Regions from separate parts of the Homo sapiens genome. Here region 2 is linked to region 1. A link means that fine-mapping ties the variant in region 1 to the expression of a gene that starts in the linked region. Tissue or cell type: whole blood. Region 1 holds a variant in brackets; the other region holds the start of a gene. All regions are shown on one strand. Distances are between the middles of the regions.

What was found. PIP is the estimated chance that this variant, and not a neighbour inherited with it, causes the effect.
Region 2: it holds the start of CABLES2, and the variant in region 1 is fine-mapped to the expression of CABLES2 in whole blood (TOPMed, PIP above 0.99).

The regions. Positions count from the first base shown.
Region 1 is chr20:62,382,118-62,390,117 of GRCh38, reverse strand. It overlaps RPS21 (ribosomal protein S21), which reads right to left and starts at 3,015. Exons shown (of 6, transcript NM_001024.4): 1 at 2,982-3,015; 2 at 2,730-2,797; 3 at 2,444-2,507; 4 at 2,204-2,275; 5 at 1,754-1,809; 6 at 1,598-1,661. The coding sequence starts at 2,779. The coding sequence ends at 1,652. It overlaps CABLES2 (Cdk5 and Abl enzyme substrate 2), which reads left to right. Exons shown (of 10, transcript NM_031215.3): 10 at 1-1,484. RPS21-DT (RPS21 divergent transcript) reads left to right here and starts at 3,129. Exons shown (of 1, transcript NR_186459.1): 1 at 3,129-3,815. RefSeq lists enhancers at 2,166-2,857, 2,858-3,549, 3,828-3,877, 6,922-7,101 and silencers at 2,738-2,927, 3,358-3,477. The variant A/G (reference allele first, on the strand shown) is at 4,003.
Region 2 is chr20:62,404,093-62,412,092 of GRCh38, reverse strand. CABLES2 (Cdk5 and Abl enzyme substrate 2) reads left to right here and starts at 4,808. Exons shown (of 10, transcript NM_031215.3): 1 at 4,808-5,178. The coding sequence starts at 4,817. It overlaps RBBP8NL (RBBP8 N-terminal like), which reads left to right. Exons shown (of 14, transcript NM_080833.3): 14 at 1,097-1,856. The coding sequence ends at 1,215. LOC105372709 (a long non-coding RNA gene) reads left to right here and starts at 5,199. Exons shown (of 2, transcript XR_936967.3): 1 at 5,199-7,203. RefSeq lists an enhancer at 1,350-1,409 and a silencer at 4,642-4,891.

The DNA.
Region 1 (8,000 bases):
ATTGTGATGGAGAAAAATAACATATTTATTGGGATTTGGTTTTTTGGGTCTTTTTTTTTTAAGGGAACAAAAAATGGTTAAATGAGGTCTGCTGAAGTTGACTTGAAAACACACTTGACCCTCAGGCAGGAGGGCACTGACCACACCCCACACAACCTCAAAGGGTCAGTGCGTCAGTGCCTTTTCTTCTGAGGCAGGAAACAGGTGCCATCTTGGCCACCTCGGCCAGGGCAGCCCACCATGCTAAAAGGACCCCAAATGGTGGTCGTTGTCCCTTCTGTGCAGGCCAGCAGGGCCCCATCTCTAGTTTTTCCACGTCTGTCTGAAGTTCTTGCAACAAATTCTGCATGGTCCAGCGCTCCAGCTAGCTGCCTCATCAAAAACACTGAATAACCAAGGACTGCTGAGTTTTTCTTCATGGGGGGTCAGCTGGTCTCAAAACTGGCCACTGCCTCAGCCACCAAGCTTTTTCCTACCACTACCTTATAAACCTGCCTGGCCCTGGAGGGGCTCTGGGACGACTTTGTCTCTAGCCCATTAATACAATACATCCTATGCTTTCTGTGCAGACTGGTGCTTCCGCAGAAAGGAGATGCCAATTCTGCTATCACAGAACTCCACCAGCAACTCCACCCGACCCCAGCAGTGGTGCAGGACAGCTGCCAGCACCCACCTGGCCCTCCTCCTTTTCCACAGCCACTCACTGGGGCCACCAAAACCCAGAGATGGCAGGTGTGTGGGACAGACTGGAGGATGAGGACAAACCAAAGCCTTTGTTCTTTCTTATTGTGGAGCGTCCCCTTCCATCAAGCAGCCTGCCCTCAAGCCAAGGATCATCCCCTGGAACCCAGTATGCACCCAGAGGGGACTCAGCTTCAAAGCTGCTCCACCATGCTGGGTCCCAGGCAGCTTTCCTCTGAAAAGCAACCTCTCCTGCCACCCAGATCCCATCTCAAGAGCTCGCCCATGTTACGAGCATGTAAAGGACTGACTTCCTAGTAACTGTTGCAGTTTACAACCTGCCCTCCAGGGACACGTCTCCATGGTTTTTCCTACACATGAATGCGAGAAATGGCTGATAAGCACAGTAATTTAAGATTGCGTATTCATGTAGTGAGATTTAGTCATTAACCAACCCGGTCTTTGTGATGTGTGAAGCCTTCCCTTCAGTTATGTCCCATTTTTATGATGCCAAAAGCTGCCACTGTGTGGTATTCGAGGATTATTGCAACAAAGCCAGTAGTTAAACCAAACTACAGTCTCAGCCTGTCATTCTCTAGAACACATCCAGGTGTCGGAGCTAAGGTGTTCAGCTCGGCTGTGACTATACAGAACCAGGCCTGGCGTTGCTTCCGCACCGGTAGCAGTTGTGGATGTCAGTGTGCATAAGCAAGTATCAGACCTCAGAATGTTTGAGTTATTTTGTCTTAGATATCTGTTTTTAAATGGATAATGTATTTGTCCTTTAAACCTCAGTTTTGCAATATGTTTCACAGCTTGTCTCCTTTCAACTAACTGGGTACCCTACCCCACCCGTCACCCACTGACAGCAAAACCTCAACCCTGGGCCTACAGACACAGAATGAACCTGCACAGGTAGGTTTTCATTATTTATTTATGACAAATATTCCACATCTGTGATTCTCTCCAGTCAAAAGTTCCTAGAACCAGGGGAAAAGGACAACGTTAAGACCACGCCTCTGGAGCAGTCCTAGTCCACTCACTCTGCCCAAATGTGAGCCCCCAACCTTACTTTGAGACGATGCCATCGGCCTTGGCCAATCGGAGAATGGAATCATCTGACTCACCCTTAAGAAAAAAAAAAAAGCACACTAAGAATATTTCCACTCCGGCTGCCTGAGATGGCAGAAGGTCAGCTGTGCCACCAGCCCACGTCTCTCCCCCGCTGAGCGAATGGAGACAGGCGCAGAAGGGGAGCCACCTCTCCCGGGGCAGCCTGCAGCCTGACTATGGTGGAGCGGGGTCGGGGGGGCACCTCCTAGTGAGAGGCAGAGTCTGCTGCCTGAGTGTCTTCTCAGAGCACCCCTCTTCCACCCTCAAGAAGCGGCAGGCGGCCAGCCCAGTCCAGCTGGCTCAAACTACTCTGCCAGCAGATCTACTCAGGCACCATCACACACTCCAATGCGCACGGTAAAGTCCACGATGTCCCGAAGTGATGAGCAAAGCCCAGGGAAACACTCACCATCCTACGAATGGCCCCGCAGATAGCATAAGTTTTAAACTGGCCATTAAACCTGCCTGTGACCTTGTCAACCTAGAAAGAGAAGAAGGGTCACAAACCACTCCCCCAGGTTTGGGAAACACCAATCCTCAAAGCCAGCCTCTGCCTGTACCTTCACCCCAGGGGCTCCTCCACAATGGGACAGCCTGCCTTTCCCGCACATATATCACAACCTTCCCGCCTCCCGGGCTCCCAGCTCACCTCGGCCACGTTCATCTGGATGGATGCGTGGTCCTTGGCACCGATGATGCGATTGCTAGCGGAGCTGTGGAGAAAGGGCGCAGTGAGCAGAGGGGACTTGGGCGGTAAGAATGAAAGAGGGGACGAGGGAGGTTGGGGGTATATGAATGGAAAAGAGTAACGTCGGGGGCAGGACAAGTTAGGGACGTGACGAGGTAAGGACGGGAGGGGTGTGGGGGAACAAGGGCAGGCGAGGGGACGTGGTGGTTAGGTAAGGACGGAAGAGAGGCATGTGGGGGGCGCTTACCATTTCCGCGGCACGTACAGGTCCACGAACTCGCCGGCGTCGTTCTGCATTTCGAGGCTGGGCTGCGCCTGGGGAGTCACCGCGCGGCGCCGTGAGTACGGCCGGAACCGTGCCCCGGCTCCCGGCGCAAACCGGCCCCTAGGGTCACGGCCCCAGCCGCACCCAGCACCCCGCACCCCGTCCCCCGCGTCCAAGCCCCCACTCCCGCCCCAGCCCCAGCCCTGAGCCCGAAGCCCGCGCCGCGCGCCACACCTGCTGCCACCACACCGCGCGCGAGAGAGAAAGGAAGCAGCTAGTCACCCGGCAGAGATATCGGCGGGCAAGGAGGGGCCTCGGCGAGCGCTTCCGGGTCACGCCACCACAGCGAGTCTGCGCGGTGCGTGCTTGCCGGCCGTCGCCGTGACGCACTTCCGCTTCCGGCAAGGAGGTTCTCGGACCCCAGCCTGCTGGCCCTGGGGCGCGGGGCGTCGTGGGGGTCGTTGTCGTTGAGGGTCGTTGCCGTGTGTGGCGTCTTAGCCTGGCCCCTGGGTTGTGCCCCACGGACGCAGTCGACCCCTCTGAGCGCCTCGGGAGCCCCGAATAGCAGCTGGGAGAAGGGGCGAGGACTGAGCCTCGCTGCCCGCTGCCGGCCGGGCTAGAGATACGGGCGTGCCCCCCATTGTGCGCCTCCCGCCCTCCGGTCCCCTCACCCTGCGGCCACCTGGGGCGTGGGGCGGTGCTCCTGCCCGTGCACGTAGCCGCTGCGAGCGGAGGCCTGCTCACCTGGTGCCTGCTACTCACTCCCCCGGGCCGGTGGGCGAAGGACACCCGCAGGAACTCGGCAGAGGAGAAATTCAGACGGCTCCCGAGGGTAGGAAAAGACCCCGGCCCACCGTGGAATCTGAAACACCCGACCACTCTGCCATCCCATGTTTCACCAGTCAGACCCCCAGGGCAGGGCAGGGGAAGCAGAATGCAAACTGGGGCACCGTTTCCCTGAAGCGTGTTGGCCGCGTTTGTCGTAGTGCTAGAGGTGCATACCCTTGGACCCCGAAAACCCATTCCTGGGAATTTGCTCCAAGGAAGTAAAGATGTTACAAAGATGGACCCACGAAGTATGGTCGTTGGTTATGGGTGGGGTCTTGAGGAAGGCCTTGTTAGTAGCCTGAACCCTGTTGCCAGGAGAAGCTCCAAACCGGTAGACGGAGGGAGCAGCGCGGCCTATGTTGGGGTCTTCTCTGGGCGGGGGACATGATCCTAGGATGTAGAACTAGCCTCAGAAAACTTAAGACTC[A/G]GTGGCCAGGTGCGGTGGCTCAGGCCTGTAATCCCAGCGCTTTGGGCGGAGGTGGGTGGATCACCTGAGGTCAGGAGTTCGAGACCCGTCTGGCCAACATGGTGAAACCCCATCTCTACTAAAAATACAAAAAATTAGCTGGGCGTGGTGGCAGGCGCCTGTAGTCCCAGCTACTCGGAAGGCTGAGGCAGGAGAATGGCGTGAACCCGGGAGGCGGAGCTTGTAGTGAGCTGAGATCCCGCCACTGCACTCCAGCCTGGGCGACAGAGCAAGACTGCGTCTCAAAAAAAAAAAGTTTTTTTATGTTTAATTTTTTGGGTACATAGTGGGTGTGTACATTTATGGGGCACATGAGATATTTTCATACCGGCATGCAGTGCGTAGTAATCACATGGGGTATATGGAGCATCCATCACCTCAAGCATTTATCCTTTGCGTTACAAATAATCCAATACTATACTCTTTTAGTCATTTTAAAATGTGCAATTAAATCATTATTGACTGTAGACACCCTGTTGTGCTATCAAACACTAGGTCTTATTCTTTCTGTCTTTTTATACCCATTAACCATCCCCATTTGCCCCCCTCCTCCCACTGTTCTACCCTTCCCAGCCTCTGGTAACCATCTTTCTACTGTCTGTCTCCACAAATTCAATTGTTTTAATTTTTAGCTCCCACAAATAATAGTGCTGTGATAAACATCGTAGCACATGTATCTCTTCCTTTCTTTCTTTTTTTTTTGAGACAAAGTCTCGCTCTGTCACCCAGGCTGGAGTGCAGTGGTGCGATCTCGGCTCACTGCAACTTCTGCCCCCAGAGTTCAAGTGATTCTCCTGCCTCAGCCTCCTCAGTAGCTGGGACTACAGGCATGAGCCACCACACCCGGCCAGGTATCTCTTTCATATACTGATTTCCTTTCTTTTGGGTATATGCCCAGCAGTGGGATTGCTTTATTTATGGCAGCTCTATTCTTAGTTTTTGTTTGTTTGTTTGTTTGTTTGTTTGTTTGTTTGAGACGGAGTCTTGCTCTGTCTCCCAGGCTGGAGTGCAGTGGTGCGGTCTTGGCTCACTGCAACCTCCACCTCCCAGGTTCAAGCGATTCTCCTGCCTCAGCCTCCAGAGTAGCTGGGATTACAGGGGTCTGCTACCACGCCTGGCTAATTTTTGTATTTTTAGTAGAGATGGGGTTTCACCATGTTGGCCAGGCTGGTCTTTAACTCCTGACCTCGTGATCTGCCCGCCTTGGCCTCCCAAAGTGCTGGGATTACAGGCGTGAGCCACTACACCTGGCCTACCAAACATTTTTTAAAGAACTAATACCAATCCTACTGAAACTATTCCAAAAAATAGAGGAGGAGGGAATGCTTCCAATCATTTTATGAGGCCGGTATTATCCTGATACCCAAATCAGACAAAGACACATCAAAAAAAGCAGATTAGAGGCCAGGAGTGATGGCTCATGCCTGTAACCCTAGCACTGTGGGAGGCTGAGGCAGGCAATTGCTTGACCTCAGGAGTCTGAGGCCAGCCAGCCTGGGCAACATGGTGAAACCCCTCTACAAAAAAATTTAAAAATTGGCCGGATGTAGTGGTGTGTGTCTGTAGTCTCAGATGCTCAGGAGGCCGAGGTGGGAGGATCAGTTGAGCCAGGAGGTGGAGGCTACAATGAGCCATGATCATGCCACAGAACTCCAGCCTGGGTGACAGGAGACCCAGAAAAAAAAAGAGAGAGAAAGGAAGGAAAGAAAGAAAGCCACAGACTGGCAGAAAATATTTTCAAAACCTGTATCTGATAAAAGACCTGTATCCAGGCTGGGTGCAGTGGCTCACTCCTGTAATCCCAGCACTTTGGGAAGCCAAGGCGGGTGGGTCACCTGAGGTCAGGAGTTGGAGACCAACCTGGCCAACATGGCAAAACCCTGTCTGTACTAAAAATACAAAAATTAGCTGGGCCTGATGGTGCACGCCTGTAATCCCAGCTACTGGAGAGGCTGAGGCAGGAGAATCACTTGAACCCGTTGGGCAGAGGTTGCAGTGAGCCGAGATCTCGCCACTGCACTCTAGCCCGGGCGACAGAGCGAGACTCCGTCTCAAAAAAAAAAAAAAAAAGGAAAGAAAACATATGTCCATTCGGAGACTGGTACTGAAATGTTCATCGAGGCTTTATGTGTCATAGCCAAAAATGGAAACAATCCACACATACACCAACAGGCAGATGGATAAATAATGGTACGTCCCCCTCGAAAGACAGCATACTGTGTGATTTTATTTGTATAAACTCTAGAAAATGCAAACCAATCAAAACTGACAGGAATCATGTTGGTGGTTGCCTGGGGTGGGGTGGTGAGCAAGTGGGATTACAGACGCACACAGGAAACGCAGGGAGTGATGGGAGGTATATGCTGTCTTGATGATGGGATTACAGACACACACAGGAAACGCGGGGAGTGATGGGAGGTATATGCTGTCTTGATGATGGCAATGGTTTCACAGTTGCATATAAAAGTCAAAACATTGGCCAGGTGCGGTGGCTCATGCCTGTAATCCCAGCACTTTGGGAGGCCAAGGCAGGTGGATCACAAGGTCAGGAGATCGAGATCATCCTGGCTAACATGGTGAAACCCCGTCTCTACTAAAAATACAAAAAATTAGCCGGGCATGGTGGCGGGCTCCTGTAGTCCCAGCTACTCAGGAGGCTGAGGCAGGAGAATGGCGTGAACCTGGGAGGCGGAGGTTTGCAGTGAGCTCAGATCACGCCACTGCACTCCAGCCTGGGCGACAGAGCAAGACTCTGTCTTAAAAAAAAAAGTCAAAACGTCAAATTGTATCCTTTAAAAAGTGGATTTTATTTTGCATCAATTATAGCTCAAAAATTTTACAGAGACTATAGGTGCTATTTGGCAAGACTCTAGGACGCACTCACTCACACAAAGCTTGAAGTCCGCTCTCTGGGCGCCGGGTCTCCAAGGCTGAGTTCTTCAAGGGAAACCTCTGCAACCTAAATCTCCTGAGCCCACGAAATCTGGATGAGCACTTCTTTAAGAAAACCTTCTGTACAAAATCGCAGACCCCCAAAACAGAGAGGGGAGTGTCCTCCCGAGGGAAGCCGTCTGGGTCGCTCCATCAGGAGAGCCTCCAGGGGCCTGCAGAGGAGGTGGCACTGCTTACCTGTCAGGAGGCTTGGGGCCACCAGCACTGTCCCCAGAAGCCACTAGGTGGTGTCTGAGAGCAGTGCTGGAGCAGGGACGGGGCTGGCTGAAGGGAGCTGAGCCCCTCCCCTCCATCCCTCCACCCGCTGTCTGTACAGTAAGTTGTTTACTGGGCCTCCAGTGGGTCTCGTGGGAAAGGGCCAGAGGGCAGGTGTGAAGGAGGGATTGAGGAGGCAGGAGGACCTAGCACTCGAAGACACCGTCGGCCTGAGCCTTTTTTGCAGAATCCTAGAGCAGCCCCCAGCGGCTCAGAGCAGTTGCTGCCTTTGCAGGGTGATCCCAGTCAGGGTCTCTGAGTGCCCCTGCATCCACCTGAGAGCACACTCACACCTGCTTCTGCCCCGCAATTGCTATATATAACTTTGACTGCCAGTGTCACCCCAGGTTTGTGCCTCTTTAGCAGTGTGACCTGGCACAAATTCCTTAGCTGCTTCTCCCTCTAGCTGTAAAGTAAAGCGACTGTCATGGAGCCACCCAGCCGTGCTGCAGTTGGCTGCTTTCAACAAACCAATGCCTGTCCAGTGCTCAGAAAAAGGTGTGGCACCCAGCATACTAACACTCACCATCATCACCATCATCATTGCTACTACCATCATTGTCACCATCACCACCATCGCCATCACTATCACTATCATCACCACCACCATCATCACCATCACCACTATCATCACCACCATCATCATCACTATCATTATTGTCATGATTGTCTATCACCATCATCACTGTCAGTATCATCGTCACCACCATTGTCATCACCATCATCATCATCTTCACCATCATCTTCACTAT
Region 2 (8,000 bases), 22 kb before region 1:
CTCCTCCCAGTAATGCCGGCAGGAGCCTCGGCCCTGGTCCGAGGGTATCGGGACAACTTTTCACTTCCTGCTCTGGGCTCAATGGCAGCTCCAGCTGGGGTCCAGGAGCCCATGAGAGACTTTGAACACCTAATTGTATGGCCCTGGTTTTTCTCCGGGCAAGGCCCGCAGGCAGCAGGCGGGGTGGTGCCGCCACTGTGTGCCATTGTTGCCGGCAGGTGGCCATGGCCTGCGTCTGCCCGGAGCGGCAGTAGAGACCAGCACGGCCCTTATTTGAGGCACTTCCTGCTGAGTGGGTGGAAATGGCCCCGGGGGGTGCAGTCTGTGAGCCAGCACACCCTTGTGCTCCTACCTGAGCCGGGACCAGGGACGCTGGCAGGGGCTCCTGAGAAACTGCTGTGGCGATCAGTGAGAGCAGGTCCCTGCCCAGCATGAGCACAGCTCAGCGCCAGAGCCAGCATCCTCGTGCCTAGTGCCCCAGAAGAGTGGGTGCAGCTGTGGCTGCCTGTGAGCCTTATGACCCTGCCCAGCAGGTAGGATCATCACTGTTTGGCTGGTGCAGAAATTGAGGCTGAGAGGGGAGAGGTCACTTGCCCAAGGTCACAGGTCTGGGACTTGTGTCAGGATTCAAACCTGACCCATTCAACTCAGAGCCTGAGCTTGCTGTGCCTCAGAGATGGCCTAAGCCCAGCATCTCGGCAGGATCCCCGTCCCCGGACCATCGCAGGAACCAGGCGCCCCTCCCATGTGGCCCTAGCCCGGGGGCAGGCCTGCTGAGGCCCGCAGCCAGTGTCAGGCCAGCCAGTATGGCCTGGCTCCCTCCAAGGCAGGAAGGGGGCCACTGGGGTCAGTGCCGTGTTCGGGGTCACACAATGGGGAGAGTGTCCACCCTCCACCCAATTCTCAGGGTTCACCCTCAGATCGGGCTACCCCTGCTCTGGGCACCGGTTTCTGTAGGAACAAGGGTGGCCAGCAAACTTCCCCAAGCACCCAGCTCCCCGTGCCCAGAGGAGACCCAGGAGGCCCTAGGTGAGAGCCAGTGTTGCCTCAAAGGAAGGCACACAGCTCCGGCCTGACCTCCGGCCACTTCCCATAGCCTCCAAAAAGCCATCCAGAGGGAGAAGGAAACTGACAGCCACTGAGGGGCCCGGGAGCCCAAGGGACGCCGAGGACCACAGTCCCTCCCCCAACAGCAGCCCCTGGGAGGAGACCTAGCCAGCCTGCACCAGGGTCCACAGCGAGCCCGGGGCAGCCCTCCACCTGCCCACCAGGGCCTGGAGAGGGCACACCATCCAACCAGCAGGCAGCCCTGCACAGAACCCTGGGAGAAGACCTAGCCAGCCTCAGCTGAACCCACAGTGAGCCCAGGGCAGCTCTCTGCCTGCTCACCACAGCCTGGAGAGGGCACACCACCCAACCAGCAGGCAACCCCGAAGAGCCGGTGACGGGCACATCCTGGCCCACTTCAAGAGGGGCTGGAGGACCGAGAGGGGTCTCAGGCTGGCGATTCACCCCGTCTCCACCCACCTGGGAAATGCTCTGCGGCCCCTCCCACAGCCCAGCACCTGCTCCCTGAGGGGTGTGGGGACTGGAGGCGGGATCACTCAGGCTCCAGCCCAGCCCTACCCCTGCTGTGCACTGCAGCCGTTCCCAGGCAGTGCCCACGCTCTGGGAGGCAACGGACCACTCGGACCCCCACCCCTGCCCGCCAAGCTCCAAGCACAATCTTGGACGCCCCCTCGTGGGCTGACAGCAAACAGATGTCTGGCAGTGAGGGTGGAGGGAGACAGTGGGCGGCAGCACCCTCGAAGACCGGGTCCCCTGAGTGACGGAGAATAAACACTTGAAGAACCGTGCATGTGTCTGGCAGGGCCCCAGGACACCACTGACTGTGCCAGGGACTGGAGGTCACCCCCTTGCGGGAGGGCAGAATAAAACCAGCTCCTCTGCAGAGTCTGCAGCGGGAAGGGACCAGGGCACCCTCGGGGAAGTGCCTGGCCACAGCGGCGGCCGTGTGCACCTGCCCCTCCTCACTAGTCCCTGGCCTGGCAGCCACAGGGCAGCTCGCCAGGACTCCACCGGGAGCACTCAAGGCTGTCTGCTCCTCGGGGGAGGATGAGTATCAGTCCCTCCCAGCTTCGTGGGAGGAGCTTAAGAAATAGATTCTTGGGCCCAACCCCGGATCCACTGAACCAGGACTTTAGAGGTGAGCCTGGAGTCTGTGTTTTAAGAAGCTCCCAGAGGTAATTCTCCTAAATGTGAAGTCTGAGAACTGCCCCTTACAGGGCAGAGACACTGGGCACTGACACCTCTGCTGGGCATCAGGGAGCGGTGGGCAAAGGAGCAATGGCACCAAGTCATGGCCAGTGTTGGGGGACGGGGAGGAGAGCAGGTGTCCCTGGGAGGTCAAGGCAGGTGGCACCTGCAACCCAAATTTGGGTTCTGAGGGATGAACAGGAGTGTGCCAAGTAGGCAAGGAGCTAGGATGTTCTGGGAAGTTTGCTGAGACCCCAACTCTAGAAAAATGGACAAGGATCAGGCAGAAAGGAAAGGTGGGGGCCACGGAGGGGTGCCAGGGCAAGGGGGAAACTAAGAAGTCAGCCCAAGGGCCAGGCCTGCAGTCAGGAGCATCCAGACAGAGCCCTGCGCTTGACACCTGCTCAGAGTTCAGGGTGAGAGCCAAAGAAAATAAGGAGCGAAACTCATGAGCAGGGCCCTCTGCAGCCAAAGCACCAAGGTGAGCTGGGCATTTAAAACCACGCATCACAGGGATGGCAGGACACGGGCCAACGACTGGGCTGGGTGAGGCCTGGGCCAGACTGGGGTGCGGGCCTGACTCAGGGGGCACTGCCTCCCACCTGCAGCCTGTGACATGTCTGCCTGTTGTCCTGAGAGGCCAGAGGGACTGAACTCCCAAGAGGGAAGTCCAGGTGTGTTAAAGGTTGCTTTAATTTCTCCAGAATCACACGAAACAAAAGCCGTGTGTTCCCTACACACTGCCCGCAGGCCAGGTTGGCTTTTGGCCACCCATCGACACCCTGGGGAGGGGAGAAGACTGGCAGCGGGAGCCTAGCAAGGGGGTTCACCAGACCCAGGAAGAGACCCCGTTCCTTCCTCAGCATTCCTCCTTGTCCCTCAAAGTCTAGCTTAGCGCCAGCAAAGAAGAACTGGCTAGGGGCCCCCCTACTGCACAGCCGATCCCCAGGACCCGGCGCTGCAGCCAGCACGGACAGCTGCCTCCTGCCTCCTGCGTCCTGCCCTCCACCCTCACTCGCCCCTTTCTGTTCTCATCTGACACCAGATTCTCTGCAAGCTGCTGGTGTATGGCCCACCCTCCCCTGTCAGGCCCCTCCTCCTGGTGATAGCCAGCAGGGATGGAGGGCCCACTGTGTGCCTGCCCCAGCCTCAGCACCCTACAGCGCTGGACACACTCACTCCCCGCTCACGGGAGCCCCCAGGCACACAAGTCAGCACCCCATTCTGTGGATCCAGAATCCGCAGCCACCCCTCTGCTATGCCACCCAGCCCCGCGTTCTCCTAGACAGGACAGCTGCCCACCTTCCCCTAGGCCTGGCAGAGGCCTTGGAGGCCAACTTGGAAGGGCGGAGGGAAAGGAAATGGAGGTGCTGCATGCTGCGTGAGCCCCAATGGTGGCCCGTGAAGGCCCACAGGAGGGAGCAGGCAGGCGGGAGGTGGGTAGGGGCCTGAAGGGCAGGGGCCCATGCTAGGGGTGGTGATGAAGACCCTGTCTTGCCCACTCGCCCACTGCCTTGTTGGCCATCATGCTGCCTCCCCACACACCAGGTGCTCCTAGGGCCAGCGCTGTGCCTGTCGGTCCCACCGGGTCCCCAGCACCCAGCACAGGAGAGGCTGGGCGCATGCGGGCAGGTGCGAGGTACTGCAGCGCATTCGCGGACTGACCACTGCATGTGCCTGGCCTCCGGCCACAGCCCGACCCCCTCACTGAGCCAGTTTCATCCTGACAGTACCCTGAGGCTGAAATCATTGTCCCCTCTTTAAAGATACGTAAACCCATGAAAGAAAGCTGGACAGAGCAGGCAGGTGACACAGAGGTGGGTGCAAGGTCCTGAGTCCCTCCACAAAGATACAGCGGGTTCCCCTCCAGACTGCAGACAGGCTCCCGGGCTCCAGAGGCAGGCCCTGACCATCCCGGTGCCACGGGCTCACAGGTTCTGAAGTCAGGGGCACCCAGGCACAGAGAGGAAACAGGCCTGGGCACAAGGCAGGCTCAAGGTCACTTTGCTACTGCAGGAAGTGCAGGACTCTGCCTGGGGCTTTGATCCCAAGCAGGTGCCTTCTCCACTCAGACCCTCGTTCCCTTCTGTCAATGAAGGAGGCCAGATGGCACGCGGGCCCTTCCGGGAAGCGGTGGGGCTCCTCCAGGGGCCGCCCTGCGCCCGCTGAAGCGCCGCCCAGACACACCTCCGGACAGGGAAGTGTGCTGGGGCCTCACCCACGCCGCCCTGGGTCCGGAGCCTTAAAATGTGCGCTCGATGGAGGCCATCCGCGAAGGCCGCCATACAGCAAAGGGAACAGAAAGCGAGAGCCCCGCGGCCGCAGGTCCCAAGACGGGGACTCGAACCGGCGGGGAGGCGCGCAGCTCCCGACTCCCTGCTGCTGCGTCCGACCGCCTCTAGGACCCAGGGGAGCGCCCTGAGCGCGGCACCTCGCTGGCCAATGGGAGAGCGCGACGGCGATACATTTGCATGTGGGCGCGCCGCGGCCAATGGGCGGCGGGCGCGCGGGCGCGCGGGCAGGGGGTGGGGCGCTTCGCGGCGGCGGGCGCAGTCTGAGGATGGCCGCGGCCGCGGCCGGTGGAGCCCCGGGCCCGGCCCCCGGCCCCGCCGGGCCCCCGCCACCCGCCGCGCCGACCTCGGCCGCTCGGGCCCCGCCGCAGGCGCTGCGGAGGCGCGGGGACTCGCGGCGCCGCCAGGCCGCGCTTTTCTTCCTCAACAACATCTCCCTGGACGGGCGGCCCCCGAGCCTGGGCCCGGGCGGAGAGAAGCCCCCGCCGCCGCCCGCCGAGGCCCGCGAACCGCCAGCGCCGCCGCCGCCGGAGCCCCCCACCGGGCTGCCCGCCAGGACCCCCGCGCCCCAGGGCCTGCTCAGCCCCACGCAGGTGCCCACCGGCCTCGGCCTGGATGGGCAGCGCCAGAGGTGAGTGGGGGCCCGGCCAGGTCAGCCCAGGACGCGGGGTACAGGGACGGGGACGGGGGCCGGATCAGCCCAGGACTAGGGGTCAGGATTACTTGGGGCCTCATCAGCCCAGGACAAGGGGGTCAGGTGACCTGGGGCCTTGTCAGCCCTGGACAGAGGCCAGGACAAAGGGGTTGGGTTCACCTGGGGCCTTGTCAGCCCTGGACAGAGGTTCAGGTGACCTGAGCCCCTGTCAACCCAGGACACAGGGGTCAGGGTCAGTCTGGGCCCTCATCAGCCCAGGACACAGGGGTTGGGTTCACCTGGGACCTTGTCAGTCCTGGATACAGAACTGGGGGTTCCTGGGCTGGCTGAGGGTTTCCTCAGGCCCTGTCACCCCCCACACATAGGGTTCATTGTCCCCTGAATTCTCCCAGCCCCTGAATACGGGGTCTGGATCTCCACGTTGTCAGTGCTCTGAAATGGGTTTTAGGGTTCAGCCCTTATTACCCCTGAGACCCCCAGCCCTGTGGGTTCTGGACATGCCCCCACCCCCATCCACTGGTACCAGTGCCCGGGACACAGGGACACATGGACAGCCCTGTGCATCTCTTCGCATTCTTTGAACCGGGCCACACCGTCCATGCCCACCTCCTCAGACCCAGCATGTGGGCCGGGGTCCTCCTGGCACTGTCACTGACACCTGTTCCCAGAGGCCCCTGCACAGCCACATCTCCCATCCCACAGCCACTGGTCTCTGGCACCCCTCCTCTCCCTGTCACTTCCCTGCTGAGCCCCGCCCTTCCCCACATCACTCTCAGCTCGGTATCTTTGGGTCTGTCACACCCTGGGTCTCCACTGCTCCCCCTGCCTTGATTCCATTTCTGGGAACCACCTCAGCCCATCCCAGGGCAACCCCAACCATGAGCCCTGCCTGTCCAGCGTGTGCCCCCTGCCCAGATGGCCCCTGGCTGCCCGACACCCTGTGTCCTTCTCCCAGAGACCACAGGACCTGGGTGACCCTGCCTCCCACAGCCCTCACCTCCAGGAGTGACTGTGGGCTCTGGGCCCAGGACTGGCTGCTTGTTGCGGTTCCTTCTCAAAGGGAGCCACTGTCCACAGGTCCAAGTGCCTGCTGGGCGGCTGTTCCCAGAGGCAGCCCCTGCAGGTGTGCAGCAAAGGGGCCGACACAGAGCTCTTGGGTCAAGGCTGGCACGTGCTCCTTGCTTACCTGGAGGTCATCAGAGTTGCCCCACGCCCCTGGCCTTCGGGCAGGTGGAGGCATTGGGTTCCTCTAAGGTCTTTGGTTGGGGAAGTTTGGGCCCAGAACACAGCACTCTGTCCTCAAAGACTATGACGTCACATGCAGGTTGCGTCACACGCAGGTCGCGGTGCACTCCATCCTTGGAAGTGTTCCTGGCCGTAGCCAGGCTGAGGGTGCCTGCAGACCCAGGCCTGTCCACAAGATGTCCCCCCACGGACATGCCTGGCCGCTGCTCCAGGGAGGGTCAGAGGGATGATTGGGGCAGAGGGATGGATTTGCCCAAATGTGGCAGCCAGGCCCCATGCATTTGGCATGGCCAGCTCCTTCAGGAAGGCGGGAGAGATGGAACAAGGTGGTGACTCTCCAGGGCAGAGCGGCAAGGCCCTAAGGTGTGGACTCCAGGGGAAGCGGGCTCACCCCAACGGGCCGAGCTCCGCAGGTGTGGTGGGCTTTTCCCTAACCCCGGGCCCTGTTGTTTGACATGGAAACAGCTTTCTCCCTCAGTCCTGCATGTTGAGTGTCCAGAACCGGATGGTGACACCAGGCAGACTGGGTGCTGTCATAGGCCCTCCTTCCACAGAGTTCATGCACCCCTGTGTGCACCAGGCCTGGCGTGGAGTGGAGCCCACTTGAGTGGAGGGAGGCAGAGCGTGGCGACGCGCAGGGAAGTGCCTGTGACTGAGAAGGCACCCCCTGCAGGCCCAGAGCCTCCATGGTGACAGTTCTGAGCGCAGCATGCTGCCCACGTGCAGCACATCCCTGCCCTGTGGGATTGTTAGAAGGTGCGCTGTGGCCGGCATCCCTGGGACAGGATGGGACGTGGCATGGGCTGGGTGCCTGCAGTCCTCCTGCCGTACCCACCATGGGCCCAAGCGCCACCACCCCTTGCCTTGCCCAGGGCTGTCTCCTCCCTTCCCTCCTCCTTGGCCCCCATGTCCCTGTTCAGGTCTTTCCTGAACCCCACTCTGTTCCTGGAGGGGGAGGCGTCCCTCCTGGGGCTCTGCTGCCAAGTTCGTGGTGCTGACCTTGTTTCTGAGGGCCATGGCCCCTCCCTGATAGGTAGACCCCAGCGTGAGGACGTCCATTTCACCCTGCGTTCCCTGGGCCTGGCTGCTGATCGAGGGAAGGGTGGCTGCCCCGGCAAAAGGGGCTGCTAGCTCCTGGCTTGAGAGTTCTAGGATGAGTTGGTTTCAGGAAATGGAGAGAATTCTGAAAGTCCTGAAGGCAGCCCTGATGTTGGTCTTGTGAGTGTGGTGGTTTGACCTGGGCTCTGGGAACAGACTTGGCTTGGAATCCCAGCTGCACTGTTCAGTACCTCTGTGACCTTGAGCAGGTGACATGGCCTCTCTGAGCCTCAATCTCCTCTGAGAAGCGGGTTCACACTAAGCACTAAGCATGGCCTCCCTGAGGTCAGAGGTCAGATGCGTGCCCAGGGCTTGGTGAGGTATGTGGCAGGAGTCAGTGTGAGATGAGCAGAGCCTCTTTTTTTTTGAGACAGGGTCTCTCTCTGTCTCCCAGGCAGGAGTGCAGTGGCGCAATCACAGCTCACTGCAGCCTCTACCTCCTGGGCTCGAGTTAT